Linked DNA regions of Homo sapiens: all the other regions are linked to region 3. Evidence: fine-mapped expression QTL. A gene starts in region 3. Each other region holds a variant in brackets. All regions are shown on one strand. Distances are from middle to middle. Region 1 overlaps MAP3K11 (mitogen-activated protein kinase kinase kinase 11). Region 2 overlaps LOC124902693. Region 3 holds the start of EFEMP2 (EGF containing fibulin extracellular matrix protein 2). Region 4 overlaps SNX32 (sorting nexin 32).

Region 1 (5,141 bases), 270 kb before region 3:
CTGGATGTGGATCCCGGCCCTGCCACTTACTAGCTGTGGGAGCTGTGGGTCCCTTAATCTCTGTGCCTTAAATTTCCTCATCTAAAAATGGGCATCCAGGAGCGCTTAGTTCTCTGGTTGTTATGACTAAATGAGACCATCTCGGGAAAGCCTTGCAAACAGTACTTGGCACAAGTAAGGAGCCAGGAGTTTGCTACGATTATGATTACATGTATGCTGTGTCGCCCAGGCTGGAGTCCAGTGTCATGATCACCGCTCACTGCAGCCTCAACCTTTCAAGGCTCACGTGATCCTCCCAGAGTGCTGGGATCACAGGCGTGCACCACTGCCTGGCCCGATTACTTCTTTTATTTCACAGCAGGCATCGCCCCCACCTGCCTGGACCACCTGATAGCTGAACTTAGAACTCTGCTCCCTACATGCGTCTTCAGTACCCCGAATGCCTGGTTCAGGGTCCAGCTGATGACTGTGGTCTCGGCCTTGCCTCCTTGCATGTCCCCACCAGCCACTCCTCCCTCCCTGGGAACCCCCGTCTCCCATATGTGAAGCAGGCCGGCTTCAGGCCACTCACCGCGGGGCTCCTCCTCACGTCGGGGGCTCTTGGCTGACCGCTGGCCCACAGGGATACCCAGGTCCAGCAACAGGGGTGCAGGAGTGGGCGGGGAGTCGGGCGTCTTGAGCGAGAAGCAGATGAGCGGGGAAGGGGGCGGCTCGGTCGGGCAGGGCGCGGGCGTTGGCGTGGGGGGTGTTGTCGGGGACTCCCCGCGCTCGCGTCCTGGGCCTCCCGGCGGCTGCAGGTCGCGGCCAAGGCCCAGCGAGGCGAGCAGGGCGGTGCCGCGCAGCAGCGCCCGCTGGATCAGCTTGGGCGTCCCAGAGCTGCTACCGCGCTCTGCGGGGACAGGCCTCTTGGGCTCCTCGGGCTCCAGGCTAGGCCGCGGGGGGTTACCTGCGGGCAGAGGCGGCACAGGTGAGGGTGTGGCTGGTGCATATTCCGGGTGAGGGCCCAAGACCTCTCCGTGGTCTTGGAACAAGGACTGAGTTCTGCCCTCTACTAGCATCTTCCCTGGTCCCACAGGTCCCATGGCCTCCCCATCACATACCCACATTCTGGCCTTTCACAAGATGGGCACTGGGAGGGGAGGGCAGTGCAGGTGGAGGAAGCGGCAGCAAAGCCCAATGGCAGCCAGCGACCCCAGACCCGAAAGATGGATGGGCAGTCCCAGTGGAGGCAGGCTGGGGCCAGGTCACAGTGGGCCTCTGTGGCCTGCCAGGGGCAACCTCCAGGCCCAGGGGCATGGCAGGTCCCACTGACTGGGACCGGCGCCCTGTGCTCTGTGCCCACCAGCTTCCTGGCTTGGCAGCCCTGCCCCTTCTGCCCACCCACCCCCGCTCCAGCTGTAGCTTATAAGATGCACACAGTCAACTCTAAGGTACATGGCAGCCCTGAGGGCATAAATCCCTGTCTCTATTCTAGAAAGGAGGAAAATGAGGTTCAGAGGGGTCAGTACCTTGCCCAAGGTCACAGCTAATTTACAGAGTATGTATTTGTGCCAGGCCTGAGCTGAATGGCATAGGGGCATTATGTTGTCTGATTCTCATGCCCCAGGGGTTCCAGGCTCAGAGAGGTTGAGGGCTTGTGCGGAGCTGTACAGCCAGTGAAAGGTGGAGCCGGCCTCACCCCAGGCAAGGGCAGTAGAACCTTTGCTCTCCACCATTTCCCAGCCAGACTCTGCCCTAGATTTCAAGACACTAGTGTCCTACCTTCCAGTCTAGGGTTGGCCTGACTCCATTCTAGACCACTTGGGCAGGGATGGGGAACCCCTCATTAAGGACAAGGGACTCTAGGATGGGCTCTCACAAGCCCTGATTTTGTCAGATCCCTCCTTGGCTCTAGAAACTGCTGTGGCTCTCCACTGTCACTAGGAGAAAGTCTGGCCTCCTTGGCTGGTCCTCTGAAGCCCTCCCTGGCCTTGTCCCTCTGCCTTTCCCCTCCTGCCTGGAGTGCAGCAGCAGGTTGGATGTCGGGAGGGAGAAATACAAGGCTGGGAAAAATGAGCTTCTACTATGAACCAGGACTTAGCTCACAGTCCCTTCTGTCAGCCCCAACCCTTACTCAGACTCTCTGCCTCTTACCTCACCCAACTCCCACCCCGGCCACTGCCACTGAAGGGACAAGGGAATCCTTCTAAAATGCAAACCTGTTAAAGACAGGTCTCTGCTTAAAAACTACCCATCACTTCCAGCTTCATTCACTCATTCATTCAATCA[A/ACATCT]CATCTACTGACCCATGTGCCTTGGCCCCTGTCCGCAGCCCCAGTCCTGAGACTCCTCGGCTCTCAACTCTTCTCGGAGTTCAGCCAGGTTGCCTTTTCCTTGGGTATGGTGAGCTGCATGCCTGCGCACACACTATTCACTCTGGGTGGCTGACCTTTCCCACCTTGGCTTTCAGTGACCTCTTATGCACCATCCAAGACCAACTGGGATGTCACTTCCTCTGTGAAGCCCTCCCAGAATCTCCCTGAACCTACACAGTTATTGCTCACGTTATGCCTCATAGAGGTGCTACTGGACTTGTTTATGAGTCTGCCTGCTTCATCATATGAGGTCAGGGCAGTGTTTAACATGTTGATGCCTGGCTCTTAAAATGCAAATCCCTGGGCCAGGCGCGGTGGCTCACATCTGCAATCCCAGCACTTTGGGAGGCCCAGGTGGGATGATCACGAGGTCAGGAGATCGAGACCATCCTGGCTAACACGGTGAAACCCTGTCTCTACTAAAAACACAAAAAATTAGCCAGGCGTGGTGGTGGGCGCCTGTAGTCCCAGATACTCAAGAGGCTGAGGCAGGAGAATGGCATGAACCCAGGAGGCGGAGCTTGCAGTGAGCCAAAATCACACCACTGCACTCCAGCCTGGGCAACAGAGCGAGACTCCGTCTCAAAAAAAAAAAAAAGCAAATTCTTGTTTGATGAAGAATCCATTTTTATAATCCTTGCACCAACCACGAGGTTATCATATCACCCCCACTTCGCAGGTGAAGAACTGATCATTTACAGTGAGTTTAAACAGAAGAGGGGAAATCATGTTTAAAAAAAAGAAAGAGTTGGCCGGGTGCGGTGGCTCACACCTGTAATCCCAGCACTTTGGGAGGCCAAGGTGGGCGGATCACGAGGTCAAGAAATCGAGACCATCCTGGCCAACATGGTGAAACCCTGTCTCTACTAAAAAATACAAAAATTAGCAGGGCATGGTGGCACGCACCTGTAGTCTCAGCTACTTGGGAGGCTGAGGCAGGAGAATCGCTTGAACCCAGGAGGCGGAGGTTACAGTGAGCCGAGATCCCGCCACTGCGCTCCAGCCTGGGTGACAGAGTGAGACTCCATCTCAAAAAAAAAAAAAAAAAAAGCAAGAGAGGCTGGGAGTGGTGGCTCAAGCCTATAATCCCAGCACTTTGGGAGGCCAAGTAGGGCAGATCACTTGAGGTCAGGAGTGCATGACTAGCCTGGCCAACATGGTCAAACCCTGTCTCTACTAAATACAAAAATTAGGCCGGGCATGGTGGTTCACGCTTGTAATCCCAGCACTTTGGGAAGCTGAAGCAGGTGGCTCACTTGAGGTCAGGAGTTCGGGACCAGCCTGGTCAACATGGTGAAACCTCATCTCTACTACAAATACAAACATTAGCCGGGCATTGTGGCACATGCCTGTAATCCCTGCTACTTGGGAGGCTGAGGCAGGAGAATCACTTGAACCTGGGAGGTGGAGGTTGTAGTGAGCCGAGATTGCACCACTGCCCTCCAGCCTGGGCAACAGAATGACACTTCATCTCAAAAAAAAAAAAATTAGCTGGGCATGGTGGCACATGCCTGTAATCCCAGCTACTGGGGAGGCTGAGGGAGAATTGCTTGAACGTGGGAGGTGGAGGCTGAAGTGAGCTGAGGTCGCACCACTGCACTCCAGCCTGGGTGACAGAACAAGACTCCTTCTAAAAAAAAAAAAAGAAAATAGCAAGAGCAAGCTGGGTGTGGTGGCTCACACCTGTAATGCCAGCACTTTGGGAGGCTGGGGTGGGTGGACTACTTAAGCGCAGCCCAGCCTGGGCAACATGGCAAAACCCCATCTCTACAAAAAATATAAAAATTAGCCAAGCATGGCATGCACCTGTAGTCCCTGCTACTCAGGAAGCTGAGGTGGGAGGATCACTTGAGCCTGGGAGGCAGAGTTTGCAGTGAGCCATGATCATGCCATTGCAGTCCAGCCTGGGTAACAGAATGAGACTCTATCTTTAAAAAAATAAAAGACAGAAATGAGACAAAGGGAAGAGAAGATAGGGTCCAGCAGACAAAATGAGAGTGAACAGAAGTTCCTGCAGTCAATGGCCTGAGAAACTGAGGTTCTGAAGGGTAAGGGACTTGGTCAACATAATCCAGCTAGGATTTGAATCTGCCTCTAAGCTTCCTGGCAGCAAGAGTTAGCAACTCTGTTGTTTAGGAGAAAGCTGCGTGACTATTCTTGACCCAAAGATAGATAGATAGAGGCGAAACTGCTTCCGTGAGGTCTCACAGGGAGGACACAGCCACGTAGTTATTGGCTCTAAGGCAACAAGCTTCACAGGGCAGTTGCTATCAGCGTAGCTGAGTGCACCCTGCCAATGTGCCACTCCTTGCAGCCAGCTCTCCAGGGACCAGAACAGCCCACTGGGGACAGGGTGAGGGTGTGTGTGACTCTCCAGTGGTATGGCTTATGCCGGGGACCATCTCACAGGGTCTGGGACCTCTGTGAAGCCCCATTATTTGATTCTTAGCTGGGTTTCGGGGGGTGGCTGTGAGGTCAATGTCATGTACTTTCATGGACCCAGATGATGCGTGGAGTGTGGGATTGGGCTAGGGGAACCAGATGCTCAGCCAGCCACTGAGCTGGGCAGCTGACATCCTTTCAGGGCAAGTGGCAATCCATTTCTTCATCAGCCAGGAAGGGCACTGGTGTTGAGGCCGACATACTTATCAAGAACAGTAACTACCATGGTTTCCAGTGCTTTCATGAAACCTCAGACATGTGGCCTTCTGGCCACACATCTGCAATTTCATATTGTGGGAGCATTCACTGTATCCCTGGGGGCTGCGGCTCTCTCAGTTTGCAGGGGCTGG
Region 2 (5,141 bases), 61 kb before region 3:
CACCCAGGCTGTGGCTCCTGAGCTGCGTGGTCCTCCCTTCATCACTCGCCCCCTCTCTGAATTCTCCCACAGCCTTTTACAATCTTTTCAAACAGCTTTTCTCCCCATACTCCTGCCAGCCCTCCTCCCCTGCCCTCCCTCCGAAGGAGCCCTTGGATTTATCCACACCTGCTGGTGCCAACATGCCCCAGACTGAACGCGCCACTCCAGGTGTGGTTTTGCCTGGTGAATGGAGAGGCACGGGGCGGCTCTGTGTCCAGAGGTGGGAGAGGCCGTCCAGGGCCAGCCTTGCACCTGGGTTCAGCCAGCGCAGCTGCCCCCAACCATGCCAGGCCGCTCTGTTGATCCCCGCTATCGAGCGGAGCGTCAGGACAGGAGCTTTTGCTGTCTCCTTCCTGCCTCAGAACCCCACCCACTATGTTTTTTCTCATCTGAATCTCAGTTCGAAATCTCCAGCCCAAGGGGTTTCCCAACACCTCCTAGTTTTGAATCAACCTGCTGATGCCAGCATTCCCAGATGAGGAATAGAGATGTGAGGTGGGACCTGGCCTGGCACTGCGTGGTGAAGACACTCCTGTACCCGCAACGGTCATCCAACTGGTGGCATCTGGACAAACAAACCCAGTCCCCTCCTTAGCTTCCATGAAGGAAAAAAACAAGTGGGTACAAGCTGAGGACACGGCTGGGAGTGGAACTGTAGGAACAAGGACTGGCCAGATGGCGACACCAAGGCGGCCATGCTCCTACCCTGAAGCCGCAGCTGCAGGTCTGGTCTGCACCAGGTGGTCCTCTCCGGCAACCAAAGAATTCTCTGCCCCCAACAGTGCCTCGGTGGAAACCATGCCCAGTCTCTCTCGGGGTCACCCCACAGGAATATGCCTTTTAGTCCCCCACCTATGGCTTCATGGGGAAGACTTCTGGCAGCAGAGGCCCGGGCATGGCAGCAGGAAACAGAGAACTGGGTCAGTCTTCTTCTTTGTCCTACTGTGGCCTCGGGGTCTGGTCATTCTCCGAATGGGGCTGAAGGACAGCAATAGGGCCAGAACGGCAATCTGGGTCTGTGCATCATGTTCTAGCCAACAAAACATCCCACCTTGGATTTTATTTTTTAAATCTATTCAAAGCTTCGGTTCCGCATCCAATTCCCAGAGAGGCCATCCCCTTGTCCAAATGGGCAGAGTGGCATGCCAGCACTGAGCCACCTCTGGAGGGGGCTGGCCACCTCTGGATGGGTCGGCACCCTCTCACAGGGGTGAACACTGCAGACTGGAACTGAGCTTCTCTCTGCTCCTCTGATTTGAGGAGAGAGCACACCTGATACCACAGCAAGCACTTGTTCTTGGCACTTGGTGTCACTCTTGCTTCATCTTGGCTCAGCTTAAACCCTTCAACTGAATGGTGGCGATCACCACAGAGGAGAACTCTCTTCTTCCCCCTCCGTGCCACATGCACACACATGCACACTCACACACACGCACACAATTGTACACACATGCACACTCACATACGTGCACAATTATACACACACGCAATCACACACACATGCACTCACATGCACACACGTAGACACACGCACAATTGCACACACATGCACACGTGCACTCACGCGTACACACTCGCACACACATGCACACTCGCACACACGTTGAGACGTGCACTCACGTATACACTCCCACACACGTTCAGACGTGCACTCACGTGCACACTCGCAAACACGCACACTCACACATGCACACTCACACACATGCACACTCACATGCCCGCCAGGGCAGGAGCCTGGCTCTCCAGGAGGCAGGGCAAGTGTCCAGACAGAAGGATGAGAGCCATGTTGTGGCACAGGAGGGCCCCATGGTGGATGATGGGGAGGAAGGGCCATGTGGACAGGCAGGGGTGGGGTTGGGAGGGGCTCCTCATCTTTCCTGAGCAGGGCCCGGGTGGAACCAAGTCTCCTGGAATTGTTCATTGTTGACTTCACCAACATATTCTTAAAACTTGAAATTGCTCAGAAGATAATCTAACAGCACAAACATGCACACATAAACAGTAAGAGTCCCTTGGCATCAAACTGGCAAACTGTGGTGGCAGAAACACAGGAAGGATCCACTCCCGGTGTGAGGCTTGCTGTCCCTCCCTCTTCAATGCGCTGGCTACCAAGCCTTTGCCAATCCCCAGTGCAGCAGTTCACAGACTTTTTACTGCTAAGAACGGCTTTTGGCAACCCCAAAAATGTGATGTGCCCTTTCGGTGGGTAGAATTAATTGGCGTAATAGAACGTGTCCTCCTCTCAGGCCTCAGCACTGCTGCTGCATCTTCGCAGCCTCTCTCAGCCTCGGTTCTGCCACCTTTCCTCACTCATACAACAACAGGCTCCTCCTATCGAGGAGGTAATGAGCTCCCACTGGACTTTGGGGTCCTCTAGAGTCACCTGCAAACTCCACTCCTCCCTCCCAACGTCGTCTCTAGAAGATTCCTTTGTCCTCGAGGCTCTCCTTTCAGTGAAGGACCCTCATGAGGACACAGTGCCTCCTCTGGGACACACAGCCATAATACTCTTGTCATAAGAAATCCAACTCCTTGACCGGGCTTGGTGGCTCACGCCTGTAATCCCAGCACTTTGGGAGGCCAAGGCAGG[TG/T]GATCACCTGAGGTCAAGAGTTCGAGACCAGCCTGACCAACATGGTGAAACCCCATCTCTACTAAAAATACAAAAATTAGCTGGGCGTGGTGGTGCGTGCCTGTAATCCCAGCTACTCGGGCGGCTGAGGCAGAAGAATCACTTGAACCCGGGAGGTGGAGGTTGCAGTGAGCAGAGATCATACCACTGCCCTCCAGCCTGGGCGACAGAGCAAGACTCTGTCGAAAAAGAAAAAGAAAAAAGAAAAGAAAAGAAAGAAATCCAACTCCTCTGCTACCCATGAGGGAAGGTGGCTCAGGATGAAAGGGAAGTTTGACAATCCCTAAATATCACAGGCTTAAGAAGAGCCATTACCCAAGAAGTCGTGTGGAAAGAGCTGCCGGCCTCAGCCACAGCTGTCCTCTACCCACACTGCCGCCTGCCGCAGGCCACAGCACCGTCAGCCGAAAAAGCCCACTGATATCTGGGTTACAGGGCTTGAGGCTGCCTTGATTTCTGGCTAACAGCTGGGCCGTCCTCGGCAAGAGCTCTCCTGGGAACGGGTTGGGGAGATTCCCCGTGCCCTGTCATTCTGATGTCTCCCTGCACAAGGGAGCGGGTTAACCATGTCCTTGCCACCTCATCTTCGAAAACAACTCATAAAAGCGCATCAGAGGAAACAGTCTTTTCATCCCACCTATCATTAGTTCCCAGAACAGGGGCTGGAAGTAGGCAGCCTCCCTGGGAGTTTGCGGGATGAGGCAACACCGGCGCCTGAGCTACCATTTAGCCTATTTCTAGAGATAAGCCTGTTGATGTCAAAGTAAGGAATGACCAACTCCAGCCAACAGCGCCCTGTGGGACTGGGTCTGTGACATCTCCTTTCTCCCAGGCACCATCCCCAGGGCAGGAGACAGGAACCCTAGATCGTGGGGGTTTGTGAACTGACCTAGGTAAATAATAACAAGTTGGGCTGCACTCTCCTTGAGGTAATTCAAAGTACTTTATCACCATTACCTCACTGATCTTAACTAACATCCAAGGAAGGAAGGAAAGAAAAAAGGCAGAAGCTTTCTCATTTCCTAAAACAAAAGTGAATGGGGGCTGGGTGCGGTGGCTCACACCTGCGATCCCAGCACTTTGGGAGGCCAAGGCAGGTGGATCAGCTGACGTCAGGAGTTCGACACCAGCCTGACCAATATGATGAAATCCCGTCTCTGCTAAAAATACGAAAACTTAGTCGGGTGTGGTGGTGGGCACATGTAATTCCAGCTACCCAGGAGGCTGAGACAGGAGAATCGCTTGAACCTGGGAAGCAGAGGTTGCATTGAGCCAAGATCTCACCACTGCACTCCAGCCTGGGCAACAGAGCAAGACTCCATCTCAAAAAAAAAAAAAAAAAAAAAAAAGTGAATGGGGAGTGGGAGCTTTTAGGTGAACCAGCTCCTATTCACCTATGGTCAGTGAAGAATAAGTACCTCAAATATACACAATAACACTAATGGGGATGGGGGAGGGCATACAAATGAACTCCAAAGCCCTGACTGTGGCCCATAGCCAGAGAAAACAAAAAAGATTCCTGATTTGGGGAGAGGAGTCCTCAACTGGGAGTTTGACAGTTCAGACTGATTTCAAAAGACAGGCTGAATTTTACCCCTCTGTGCTAGAAAGGGTATCGAACCATAAATTCCCCCTGCCCTGACTTCACCAAACTTTGTAAATAACAGAGACGCGCACCCGAGTAATTAGAAGAAAAAGCTAAGTGGCTTGTCAGCTAAGTGGCTTGAGTAGGCATAGGTGTGGCTGGAAGCATTCTGTGTATTTTCTCTACAGCCAAATGTGTAAACGGTCAGAAATACTAGTTTAATGAGCTTATAAATTTGGAGTGACTCTTTACATCTGACAGTGAGGTCTGGGGTTCAACTATTTCACCTCTGAAATCAAAGAGGCTGTGATGGGGTATTCATCTCTTACCAATTCTTTTTTTTTTTTTTTCTTTTTTTGAGATGGAGTTTCGCTCTTGTTGCCCAGGCTGGACTGCAGTGGCGCAATCTCAGCTCACTGCAATCTGTCTCCCGGGTTCAAGCAATTCTCCTGCCTCCGCCTCCTGAGTAGCTAGGATTACAGGCGCCCACCACAACGCCCGGCTAATTTTGTGTATTTTTAGTAGAGACGGGGTTTCATCATGTTGGCTAGTCTGGTCTTGAATTCCTGACCTCAGGTGATCCACCCACCTCGGCCTCCCAAAGTGCTGGGATTACAGGTGTGAGCCACCACGCCCGGCCCATCTCTGACCAATTCTTCCAGAATGTTCCACAGGTTTCTTCTTCACACTTTATGATTCTATTTTACTGACCCAAACAATTCGCCCTCCAATGTTTCGTGGAGGGGATAACAACTCTGGGTATTTGAAGATGTTTTCTGACATCTTATCTGTTTCCTTCCCTCCTTGGTCTGCGCTGGGCTACCTGAAATGCCTCCTACACGCGCGCTTCCCTTATGAACATTCATTAGATGGGTACTTGTCCT
Region 3 (5,141 bases):
GTTGAAGCAGCGCTGCTCGCATGGGGCCCCCATGTCACACTCGTTCACATCTGGGGGTGCCAGGAAAAACAGGAGGGATGAAAGCGGAGGAGGAGCCCAGAGCCTCCACTCTACCTGGGCTGGTCAAGAAGGGAGCGCCCCCACCTCACACCTCCCTGCCCAGGACCCAGGAGCCTGGCCCAGCCCAGCCTCACCAACACAGGAGCGGTTGTTAGGCCCCAGCTGGAAGCCCGGCTCGCACTGGCAGCGGAAGGAGCCAGGCAGGTTCACGCAGCGGTGCTGGCAGTAGCGGTAGCGGCACTCGTCTATGTCTAGGGATAGAGGCAGGAGAAGGAGGGCGGAGGGCAGAGGGCAGAGGGCAGGTGGGCTCGAGCCGGCTGGGACTCAAGGCTTCACCACCCATAATCCTGTGTCCGAGGAGCTGAATTAGGCAGGGTCAGCCAGGACACCTCCCAAACACTCCCCGCTACAGTCCTCTGTGTCTGATGACGGAGGGTGAGGTGGCAGGGGCCGGGGGTGAAGCCTGGCTTGAATGGGGGTCAGGTGCTAGGGCAAGGGCCAGACCAGGGACACAAAGCCGGGACTACAGAAGCTGCTTCCTGGACTCACCCACACACTCGGGCCCGATCTTGCGGTAACCATCAGGGCAGGTGCACTGATAGGAGCCAGGCAAGTTATGGCAGTCCTGGCTGGGGCGACAGTCGTGCAGGGCCTGGGCACACTCGTCCACATCTGCGAGAGACACCACTCAGCCCCTGCCTGGGATCCCGCACACCACCCAACATGACAGATAGTTCCAACACTTGTATTCGGTTCTCTCAACAGCACGCGTAAGAGTTCACCAGCCTGGAGCCATCAGGAAAGGCACCCCTAACCTCTAAAACCACATGTTGGGGGTTGCACAGGAAATAAGGTCCTGTCCAAACATCCCCAGCAACACTGATTCCTGGACTGTCCTTCCTCCAAGGCCTGTGGCTCCCAGGGGACAGACACTGGAAGGCAGACTTCCTGCAGTGTCTCTGCAGCAACCGAGGGGAGGGGCCCGGAGCTGGCTGGAGCAGTGGCACACAAGCTGGGGCCACCTGCGGCAGGTCCTAAACAACATGAGTGTCTGGATGAGGGTGTGGACATCACCAGTGGCCCTTTTGAGCTGGGGAGGAACATGAGGTCTGAGTTTAAGACGCCTGGTGAGAGGACTGGAAGCCAGGCACCAGAGCAGTCCCCACTCACCCACACAGCTGTCCTGATCGTCGGGCTCATAGCCTGGTGGGCAGGGGTTGGGGTGTTGAGCGGGAGGCACTGGTGGCGGGGGTCCCTCGCCGTGTAGGTCGTTGATGACGGCAGCGGAGCGGGGCAGGCACAAGTAGCCCCCGTAGTGGTTGATGCACTTCATTTCCCCCTTGCAGGCCTCAGGGATGGTCAGACACTCGTTGACATCTGCAGAGAGGGGCCTGCTGGGCACAGCCAGTCTCCTGGGCTGGCCCTGGAGGGAGCGGAGGCAGGAACCCAGCTCGGCCTTCTCTGAGATGTGTGGCCCCAGCAAAGCCTTCCCACTCTGCTCAACAAGCTAAGTCTGCCTGCTCAGGACCCCTCCCCAGGGTTGGCCAAGGCTGGAGATGGGGCAGCTGTTCCCACTGTTGCCCTCATTCTCGGCCTGCAAGTGGGTCTCTATCCCTCCCCACGGCCCTAGCCCTAGCTCAGCCCAAGATGGGGGGCCTCCTTACCCACCCCTGGGGACGCTACCCTCCCAGGTTGTGATGAGACAAAGAGCTGGGACAGGAGAGTGGTTCAGAGAAGGCGTACAGGATCCAGCTCCTCTGAGGGGTAGGGACAAGGTTTCCTGGGTTTCTGGGAGAGGATGAGGCCACCCCTAGCTCAACTGGCCTCCAGAGAGCCAGAGCTGGCCTCTGTGTAGCAGAGCTGGGCATAGAACGGGCTGCTGGGCTCCCACGGCAGTTCTTGGAGGTGGGGCTGTCCCTTGGAAAGCAGCTATCAATCCCTTTCCGGGTTCCTGGGGGTGTTTGGTCCCCCAGGCACACACACCCCGGCAGTGCTGGCTGTCTGGGTCCCACTCATAGCCATCTGTGCATTCCTGGAAGGGAACCAGAAGTGGCCAGTGGTCACCCTAAGATCTCCTCCAACTGGCCAGGCCAAGACTAGGGCCTGAGCCTGGCCACCCTCCGGCCTGCTCCAAACAATGGCCCCCAGCTCTCCACCAGCCAGGGGAGGAAGACTTCCCCGGCAGCAGTCACCCTGGGTCCCGGTCTCTTCCTCCCTACCCTTCCTGTCCCAGGCCAGCGGCCCTCACTGTCCCCACCGTGTAGCTGTCGGGCTCTTCAGAATCCTGAGGAGAAGCTGATCCCAAGAGCAACAGTAGCAGCGCCCAGAGCAGTAGAGACCCGGGTAGGCAGGAGGCGCAGGGGAGCATCCTGGGGCTGCGAGATGGTGGACACGGGTCAGGGGCCTCTGCCCGCGGCACCTCAACTCCCTGTACCGGGAGCCCGAGCCCAGCCCCCGCCACTGCCCGCTCAGGACCGTGCTTGGGCCTCGGGGCCTCCCAGGGCTGGGGGCCGACTCCTCACAGGCCCAGGTCCCAGGCCCGGGTCCCAGGCCCACCCGCCCCGGCCACCCCGCCCCCGCCCCGCGCCCCTGCGGCGAAGGCCGAGGAGCGCGGGCCTCTGTGGGCGCTACGCTGCCGCGGACTCGGCCGAGACTCCGGCCCACGCCCTCCCCCACGGACGGTCACAGCCACTCACTTGGGCCCGCGACACCCCCGCGGCCCGCGGCTCTGGCGGCTCGGCTGGCTCGGGCAATGCCTGCGGGCAGACGGACGGGCGGACGGCACAGCTCCCTGGACGCGCGGCCCCAGGAAGCGCCCCCCGCCCGCCCGCCTGCCGCGGCGCGGCCCACCCCGGCGCCTCCGCCCGCCCTTCGGCGGATTCCTGAGCCAGCGCCAGGGGGAGGGACCCCGACCCCCCGCTTCTCCGCCCCCGGCCAGCCACAGGCCCCTACCCGGTCCCCCGCGGCGCCGCCAGGAGCCGCCTCCCGGCGCCGGACCAGGGTCCCCCAGTGCTCGATCCTGGGGCCCCGACCTTGATGCCAGGCCCCCAGACTCACCCGGGGGCCCCCAGACGCTCACCAAAAATGTCATCCTGCTCACCTAGGTCCTACCTAATCTGCGCCCCCAGAATTTCATCCTGTGCACCCACACCGTAATCCTGGAGCCCCCAGATTCTCATTGTGCGCCTCCCGAGATCGTCCTGGGTACCTAGAGCCCACCTAACCCAGTCCTCCAGACCCTCAATCTGCTCCCTGCAAAATTTTATTCTCTGCCCCAGACCGTCATTGTAAAAGATCCTAAAACTTCATCCAGGGTCCCCAGACCCTCGCCCAGGAACGAGAGGCTCCCAGGAGCAGAACTGTCCTTCTCGCTCCCTCCTGCCCTCCACCCCCAGGACCGTCTTCAGCCGGGTGGTCCTTTCACTACACACGGCCTCCCCCACACCCTCCATCCACAAAGCTACAAGTTTGGGGGCGAGGGCGGCAGTTCCCTTTTGGCACAAAATGAATGGAAGCCCCTGAGAAGGAGGGCAGGGCTGATGTCGGACGTGCGGGATGCCAGAGTCGGGTGCCAAGGCGCCTCCTCGACCTCCTCGCACCAGCGTCCCCCGCCCGGTTTCCGCCTCCGCCCGAAGTGGGGGCGTGTCCTTGGGGCGGAGTATGGGCGGGGCTGGCTCCCAGGAAGGGCGTGGCCTCTGTTTGCCCACGTCTTTGGGCGGGGCCAGGCGGGAAAGCACTGCGTGTCCGGGGATCCCCCGCCTGGGGCCCGCCCTTCCTTTCCCCTTGCCATCCCTGCTTATCCCCGCAGTCGCCCTCCACGTGACCCCGGGGAGGGAGTCTGCCGAGGAGGGGACGTGCTGGTGGGTCCCGCGGCGAGCGCCTGGGGCTCAGGTGAACTGCGCAGTGCCCGCTCCTCGCCACTCTGCCACCACCATCCCTCCCAGCTGCTGGGGCAGAAGGTTAAATAATAGCTCTTTAGGGGCCGGACGCGGTGGCTCAAGCCTGTAATCCCAGCACTTTGAGAGGCCGAGGCAGGTGGATCACCTGAGGTCAGGAGTTCGAGACCAGTCTGGACAACATGGTGAAACCCCGTCTCTACTAAAAATATAAAAATTAGCCAGGCGTGGTGGCGCGTGCCTGTAGTCGCAGCTACTCAGGAGCCTGAGGCAGGAGAATCACCTGAACTCGGGAGGTGGAGGTTGCAGAGAGCCCAGATCACACTGCTGCACTCCATGGGTGACAGAGGGAGACTCCATCTTAAAATAATAATAATAATAATAGGCCCGACGCGGTGGCTCACGCCTGTAACCCCAACACTTTGGGAGGCCAAGGTGGGCAGATCACAAGGTCAGGAGTTCAAGACCAGCCTGGCCAACATGGTGAAACCCTGTCTTTACAAAAACACAAAGAAATTAGCTGGTGTAGTGGCACGTGCCTCTAATCCCAGCTACTCGGGAGTCTGAGGCAGAATAATCTCTTAAACCCGGGAGGCAGTTGTTGCAATGAGCCGAGATTGTGCCATTGCACTCCAGCCTGGGCGACAGAGCGAGACTCCATCTCAAAAATAGTAATAATAATAATAGCTCTTTAAAACGAGAAAGACAGTAACAAGTGTTGGCAAAGATACGGAGAAACTGGAGCCCTCATGCACTGTTGGTGGACAATGGTCTGGCAGTTCCTCAAAATGTTATCACATGACCTGACAATTTCACTCCTAGGTATACATACCTAGGATAATTGAAAAGATATGTACACACACACAAATCTGTACGCAGCGTTTATAGCTGCACTATATATAAGAGCCAAATGCAGAAACAACACAAAAGCCGTCAACTGATGAATAACAAGATGCAGTACATCCACACAGTCGAACATTATTCAGCCATAAAAACTAATGAAGTACTGATGCATGCCACAATATAGGTGAATTCTTTTTTTTTTTTTTTTTTTTAATTGAGACGGAGTCTTGCTCTGTCGCCCAGGCTGGAGTGCAGTGGCGCCATCTCGGCTCACTGCCAGCTCCGCTTCCTGGGTTCACGCCATTCTCCTGCCTCAGCCTCCTGAGTAGCTGGGACTACAGG
Region 4 (5,119 bases), 20 kb before region 3:
AAATGAAATCATGCACACCTGAGCTCTAACTTTGTCCTCCCTGGGATGTGGGATGAGGGGGGCCCAAAAGTGCATGCCCAGACTTGCTGAGGCAGGGCTTGGGGCAGAGAGAGGACCTCAGTTGGCCTTCCCGCTTCCAGAGCTGCCTCCCTCACTTCGCCCAGACCGAGTTCTCAGTCGTGCGGCAGCACGAGGAGTTCATCTGGCTGCATGATGCCTACGTGGAGAATGAGGAGTACGCCGGCCTCATCGTGAGGAGGGGCTGGGCAGGGGCTGGGAGGGACAGGCAGAGCACTTGGGTGAGGACCAAAGGCTGTGATGGCCGTCTCGGCAGTGAGAGGCCTCCCAGCTCCGTCCCTCCTTTGAGCAGATCCCCCCAGCCCCTCCGAGGCCAGACTTTGAGGCTTCGAGGGAAAAGCTACAGAAATTGGGCGAGGGGGACAGCTCTGTCACTCGGGAAGAGTTTGCCAAGATGAAGCAGGAGCTGGAAGCGTGAGTGCCCCCTCCTTTCCCTGCCATCCCCAGAGTCCAGATGTCTTCCCCAGCTATCTCCCCATGAATGTTTAGCAACCCTGACCTCTGACCCCAGAAAGGGGGCAGGCAGGATGATGGGGGCTGAGGAGGGCCGGTGAGCTGCTGCCACTCTCGCAGGGAGTACCTGGCCATCTTTAAGAAGACAGTTGCGATGCACGAAGTCTTTCTGCAGCGCCTGGCGGCCCACCCCACCCTGCGTCGAGACCACAACTTCTTTGTGTTTTTGGAATATGGACAGGATGTGAGCTGGGCCGAATCCCTGGGGTCACCCTTGGGCCAGGAGTCTACCTTGGGTGGGGAGGCACCCAGGGGTGGCAGGGCTGGAGAAGGGGCCCAAGTGGGCCCAATCCTGTGTCACAGCTCCGTGAGTGGCTTGCAACTTGGGGTGGGAGGTGAGAACGCCCACCCCAGCATCATACCCTCCCTGTGTGCCTCAGCTGAGTGTCCGGGGGAAGAACAGGAAGGAGCTCCTCGGAGGGTTTCTGAGGAATATTGTGAAGTCCGCGGATGAAGCCCTCATCACGGGCATGTCAGGGCTCAAGGTAACCCCTGGTGCTCCTCTCCGGATTCAACCCAGCACCTCAAGTCCACAGCACAGATTGAGGCCCAGGCTGGGTGTGGGAAGGAAGCCACTGGTGGGGCCTGGCCTGGTTTGGAAGGAGATTTTGCCAACCCTGGGTGCCTGTGTTGTCAAGCCCCGTGGTGACCCAGTGTAAATGGGGTCCTGCCTGGCTCCCTTAGGAGGTGGATGACTTCTTTGAGCATGAGAGGACCTTCCTGTTGGAGTATCACACCCGTATCCGAGATGCCTGCCTGCGGGCCGACCGCGTCATGCGCGCCCACAAGTGTACGCAGGGCCCAAGGGGTCCTGGATCCCCCTGCCCCTCTCCCCAGCGGTTCAACTCCTTGGGGGAGAGAAGAGAGCAGGGCGTGCCTTGTTGTTTGTCTGTGGCCACAAGCACCAAGGCTTGACATGCAGATGTAGGGGCTCTGATGGGGGCTGTTCCCCAACAGGCCTGGCAGACGATTATATCCCTATCTCAGCTGCGCTGAGCAGTCTGGGAACACAGGAAGTCAACCAGCTAAGGACGTGAGGACTCCCCCCACCCCTACCCTCTCCCTGTGCCTGTAATACCATGTCTTCCCATGAGGGGTCACTCTGTAGATGTCTACTGTCAGCTCTAGGTGGGAGGTGTAGGCTCTCCTGTTGGGGGATGGTGTTGGGAAGGAAAGGGGAGAGGGAGATTCCCAAGGAGAGGCTGAGACAGAGAGGCTTTGAGCTGTTCCTCAGCCCCCTACCCTAACTCCCTCCCTACTGCTTCCTAGGAGCTTCCTCAAATTGGCAGAGCTCTTTGAACGGCTGAGGGTGAGTACTGCCTTCTGTGCTCAAAGGCTTTCCTGGTGAGCTTTGCAGGGAAGATGAGTCCTGGCAGAGGGAAGAGCTCCAGGATCATCTTGGGTTCAGTGA[T/C]AACTTGGGCCCAGTGGCAAGTTGGGCTTACACTCCAGACTAGTTTAACAAAAGGTGGGGTGAAGACAAGGATCCAGCTTCGTGTGTGTGTTGGGGGGTGCAGGGGCATGCACATGTATGCACGTGTGCAGCAGCGGAGGGTTGGGAGGCACAAGGGTGTGCCCAAACCTCTGGCAGGCTGCACCCAGCTGCCAGCACACTGCCCGGGCACACATGTTCCCCACTCTTCCCTAAGAAAGTCACTGGAGTGTTGCCATCTTCCTAAAATGTCTATTGGACCGCATCTCTTCCCTGCTCAAGGCCCTTCAGAGACCCTGCCCCTTCTGGAAGCTCCTAAAGTCCTGAGCTTCCACTTTCAGCCTCTTGTGCTCCAGCCACTGCCTCCCTCCCCTGCTTTGCCCAAGTGCCCTCCCTGAACTAAAGTTTCCCTGAACACATAGCCGGGCTTGCACAGCTGCCAAGCCCTCAGCGCCCTCTGTCCAGCTCTTACTCAGTCCCCGAGATCCAGACTAGATCCCACTTCCTCTGTGAAGCCTTCCCTGGCCTGCACCCCTCAACACCAGACCTGACCTGGAACAGTTACCTAAGGCTTCTTTGCTGGATATTTAGATGAAGAGGTGCCTCCCACCCCTTAGCTGCCCCTCTGACAAGCTCCCTTCCCAGTGCCCACCTTTCTGATGCAGAAGCTGGAGGGCCGGGTGGCTTCCGATGAGGACCTGAAGCTGTCAGACATGCTGAGGTACTACATGCGTGACTCACAGGCAGCCAAGGTGAGAGGCAGCCCCAGCGCAGCGCTCAGGCCCGGATGCCAGGACAGGGCAGCAGTGACCCTGTGCCCATGGTCCTAGGACCTGCTGTACCGGCGGCTGCGGGCACTGGCCGACTACGAGAATGCCAACAAGGCGCTGGACAAGGCGCGCACCAGGAACCGGGAGGTGCGGCCCGCCGAGAGCCACCAGCAGCTGTGCTGCCAACGCTTCGAGCGCCTCTCCGACTCCGCCAAGCAAGGTGAGCCCGCAGCCCCCAGCCCCAGCCTGGGGCCACATGCCCTGCCCTGCCCGGATCCCCATGCCTCTTCCCCTCCTCTCCAGAGCTCATGGACTTCAAGTCCCGCCGGGTCTCCTCTTTTCGAAAGAATCTCATTGAGCTGGCAGAGCTGGAGCTCAAACACGCCAAGGTGAGCCCTCCCACCTCACTGGGCCCTTGTGAAGCCTCCCACCTCCCACCTCCCTCCCTCCCCCAGGCACCAGGGTGTGCGTGCATGTGAGGGTGTGCACGCATGTATGCGCGTGTGTGTGCATGAGAGGAGCCCCAGCTAAGGCTTGGGGCCATGCTTCCCTGGCTCAGGACCCGTGCCTTCTGGGTAGGAAGGCCCAATTAACAGCAGCTGTTATTGCAGAGAGCAGGGGTGTGGGGAGCGAGGGAGCATCTAAGGTGCAGAAAGAATGGCAGCCTGACTCAGGGAGCAGGGGACTTCAAGGACCTGTTTCTCCTCTGCAGGCCAGCACCCTGATTCTCCGGAACACCCTTGTTGCCCTAAAGGGGGAGCCTTAGAGTAGCCAGAGCTCAGCCAGACCCTAATCTGGGATCTCCAGTGACCAGGGTATCCCAGACCCCTCTCTCCGGCAAGATGTCTCCTTCCCTAGCAGTGCCACTAGCCACACCCTCACTCTGCCCCACATCCTCTCAGGGAAAGCCCAAACCCCCTATCACCACCACCACAGGTGCCAGGCCCTGCAAGACACAGGGCAGCATGGGCATCATAACTGGCCACAGTCAGCAGAGCCCCAGGGACCCTGACACCTCTCCCCAGGAAGCTGAGGAACAGCCTCTACCCTCACCCATAGCCCTGAAGGAATCATAGCTCACTTGATCCCGGCCTGTTCTCCTTCGCAAATAAAAACCCTGGTTTTGTAGCAAGGAGGCCTGTTGTCCTTACTTCCCTTCCCACAGCTCAAAGGTCCACCAGGCACACTTTCTGCCAAGGCAGTATGATCAGATCCTGGAGACACCAAGGAGGGCACCCCTGCAGCATCCTCAGCCCTCTCTCCAGTGACAGCAGGCTCCCTGTGGGAAGGCGCGACACCCAGAAGCTGGGACCTAGGAACCCCAGAAGTCTTCCAGGTTTGCCCCTACCCCCATAAACCCTAGCACAAAAATGAATCCCAAGTTCTCCACACCTATTTCCTAACCAGAAAAGGGATCTAGCCCTTCCTCCCAGAACCGCTCACAAGTTCCCAGGAGTTATGGAGCCAACTGTAACACCAGGAGGACTCTTCCTCAGTTCAGTTGATAAGGGAAATATAGATGCCACATTACCACTCCCAGTTCACCTCACCCTAGGGCCAGATTTCTTGTATGTCTTTGCCTGCTGGGCAGGAAAAAGCCCAAAGTACAGGCTGGAAACAGCCCTTGACAATGCTGGCAAAAGGCTCAGGGTACCGGCAACACCCTTTTGGTTAAACACAGGGAGGCAGTGCTCAAGACACCGGGGTCTGAAGTCCCGGGCTCCACCTGGCTGGCCCCACCCTGAATGCACTCCAGCCACATCTAGAGGAGGTCAAAGGCTCAACTTGGCCTGACTCACAGCAGCCACTGAACCTGACCCTCATAAACTTGAGTCAGCCATCCAGGGAAGACAGCAGACCAAACAGAACCTTTGAGCTACCTCTGACTTGCCTATCAGCCCACACCTAGAAAGGGACAGAACAGAATATCAGATGGACCTCACTGTCCATCCAGGCAAGGCTACAGAGCACCCAGTTCAGGCATAAATCACTTCCGCTGGAAGACCCCTGTAGCCAGCACCCACTCCTTAAACAGCCAGTCCAGTGTCAATCACAGCACCAACAGAATAATGGTGACCATCAGAAAGGCGTCTCAGCCAGTCATTGGAGCCAGATAAGGGTGTGCAGGGGCTGGTTGGGTGTGGAGTACAGAGGAGAGAGATAGCACCATTATCCCAGTGCACCCCCAATCCTGAAGTCTCCTGTGTCCCAACCTTGAAAAACACATCCCATTAATGAGCCTTTTTATTATTGTCTTTTTTTTTTTTAATCGAAGGTCCCTTACTGGTCCTGCTTCCATGAGTAGCCGTGACCAGGGGAAAAGGGAGAG

Evidence for each region. PIP is the estimated chance that this variant, and not a neighbour inherited with it, causes the effect. A credible set is the group of variants that fine-mapping cannot tell apart.
Region 1: its variant is the best candidate, but not a certain one, in a credible set for the expression of EFEMP2 in monocytes (Quach 2016, PIP 0.59).
Region 2: its variant is the best candidate, but not a certain one, in a credible set for the expression of EFEMP2 in whole blood (TOPMed, PIP 0.88).
Region 4: its variant is the best candidate, but not a certain one, in a credible set for the expression of EFEMP2 in whole blood (TOPMed, PIP 0.89).

What each region holds. Positions count from the first base shown.
Region 1 is chr11:65,598,823-65,603,963 of GRCh38, forward strand. It overlaps MAP3K11 (mitogen-activated protein kinase kinase kinase 11), which reads right to left. Exons shown (of 10, transcript NM_002419.4): 9 at 572-946. Among named protein-coding and RNA genes, the nearest start is that of KCNK7, 5.6 kb to the left of the region's middle. The variant A/ACATCT (reference allele first, on the strand shown) is at 2,269.
Region 2 is chr11:65,808,911-65,814,051 of GRCh38, forward strand. All of the region lies in intron 3 of LOC124902693, which reads right to left. Among named protein-coding and RNA genes, the nearest start is that of OVOL1-AS1, 21 kb to the left of the region's middle. The variant TG/T (reference allele first, on the strand shown) is at 2,633.
Region 3 is chr11:65,869,927-65,875,067 of GRCh38, forward strand. It overlaps EFEMP2 (EGF containing fibulin extracellular matrix protein 2), which reads right to left and starts at 2,874. Exons shown (of 11, transcript NM_016938.5): 1 at 2,757-2,874; 2 at 2,318-2,435; 3 at 2,044-2,092; 4 at 1,231-1,437; 5 at 610-732; 6 at 195-311; 7 at 1-50. The coding sequence starts at 2,428. RefSeq lists a silencer at 3,877-3,936.
Region 4 is chr11:65,849,780-65,854,898 of GRCh38, forward strand. It overlaps SNX32 (sorting nexin 32), which reads left to right. Exons shown (of 13, transcript NM_152760.3): 3 at 141-251; 4 at 371-492; 5 at 652-775; 6 at 972-1,076; 7 at 1,276-1,381; 8 at 1,549-1,624; 9 at 1,861-1,900; 10 at 2,686-2,772; 11 at 2,851-3,010; 12 at 3,094-3,179; 13 at 3,503-3,922. The coding sequence ends at 3,556. It overlaps CFL1 (cofilin 1), which reads right to left. Exons shown (of 4, transcript NM_005507.3): 4 at 4,894-5,119. Among named protein-coding and RNA genes, the nearest start is that of CFL1, 5.8 kb to the right of the region's middle. RefSeq lists enhancers at 994-1,153, 1,675-2,536, 2,784-3,003, 3,054-3,103 and a silencer at 1,259-1,553. The variant T/C (reference allele first, on the strand shown) is at 2,003.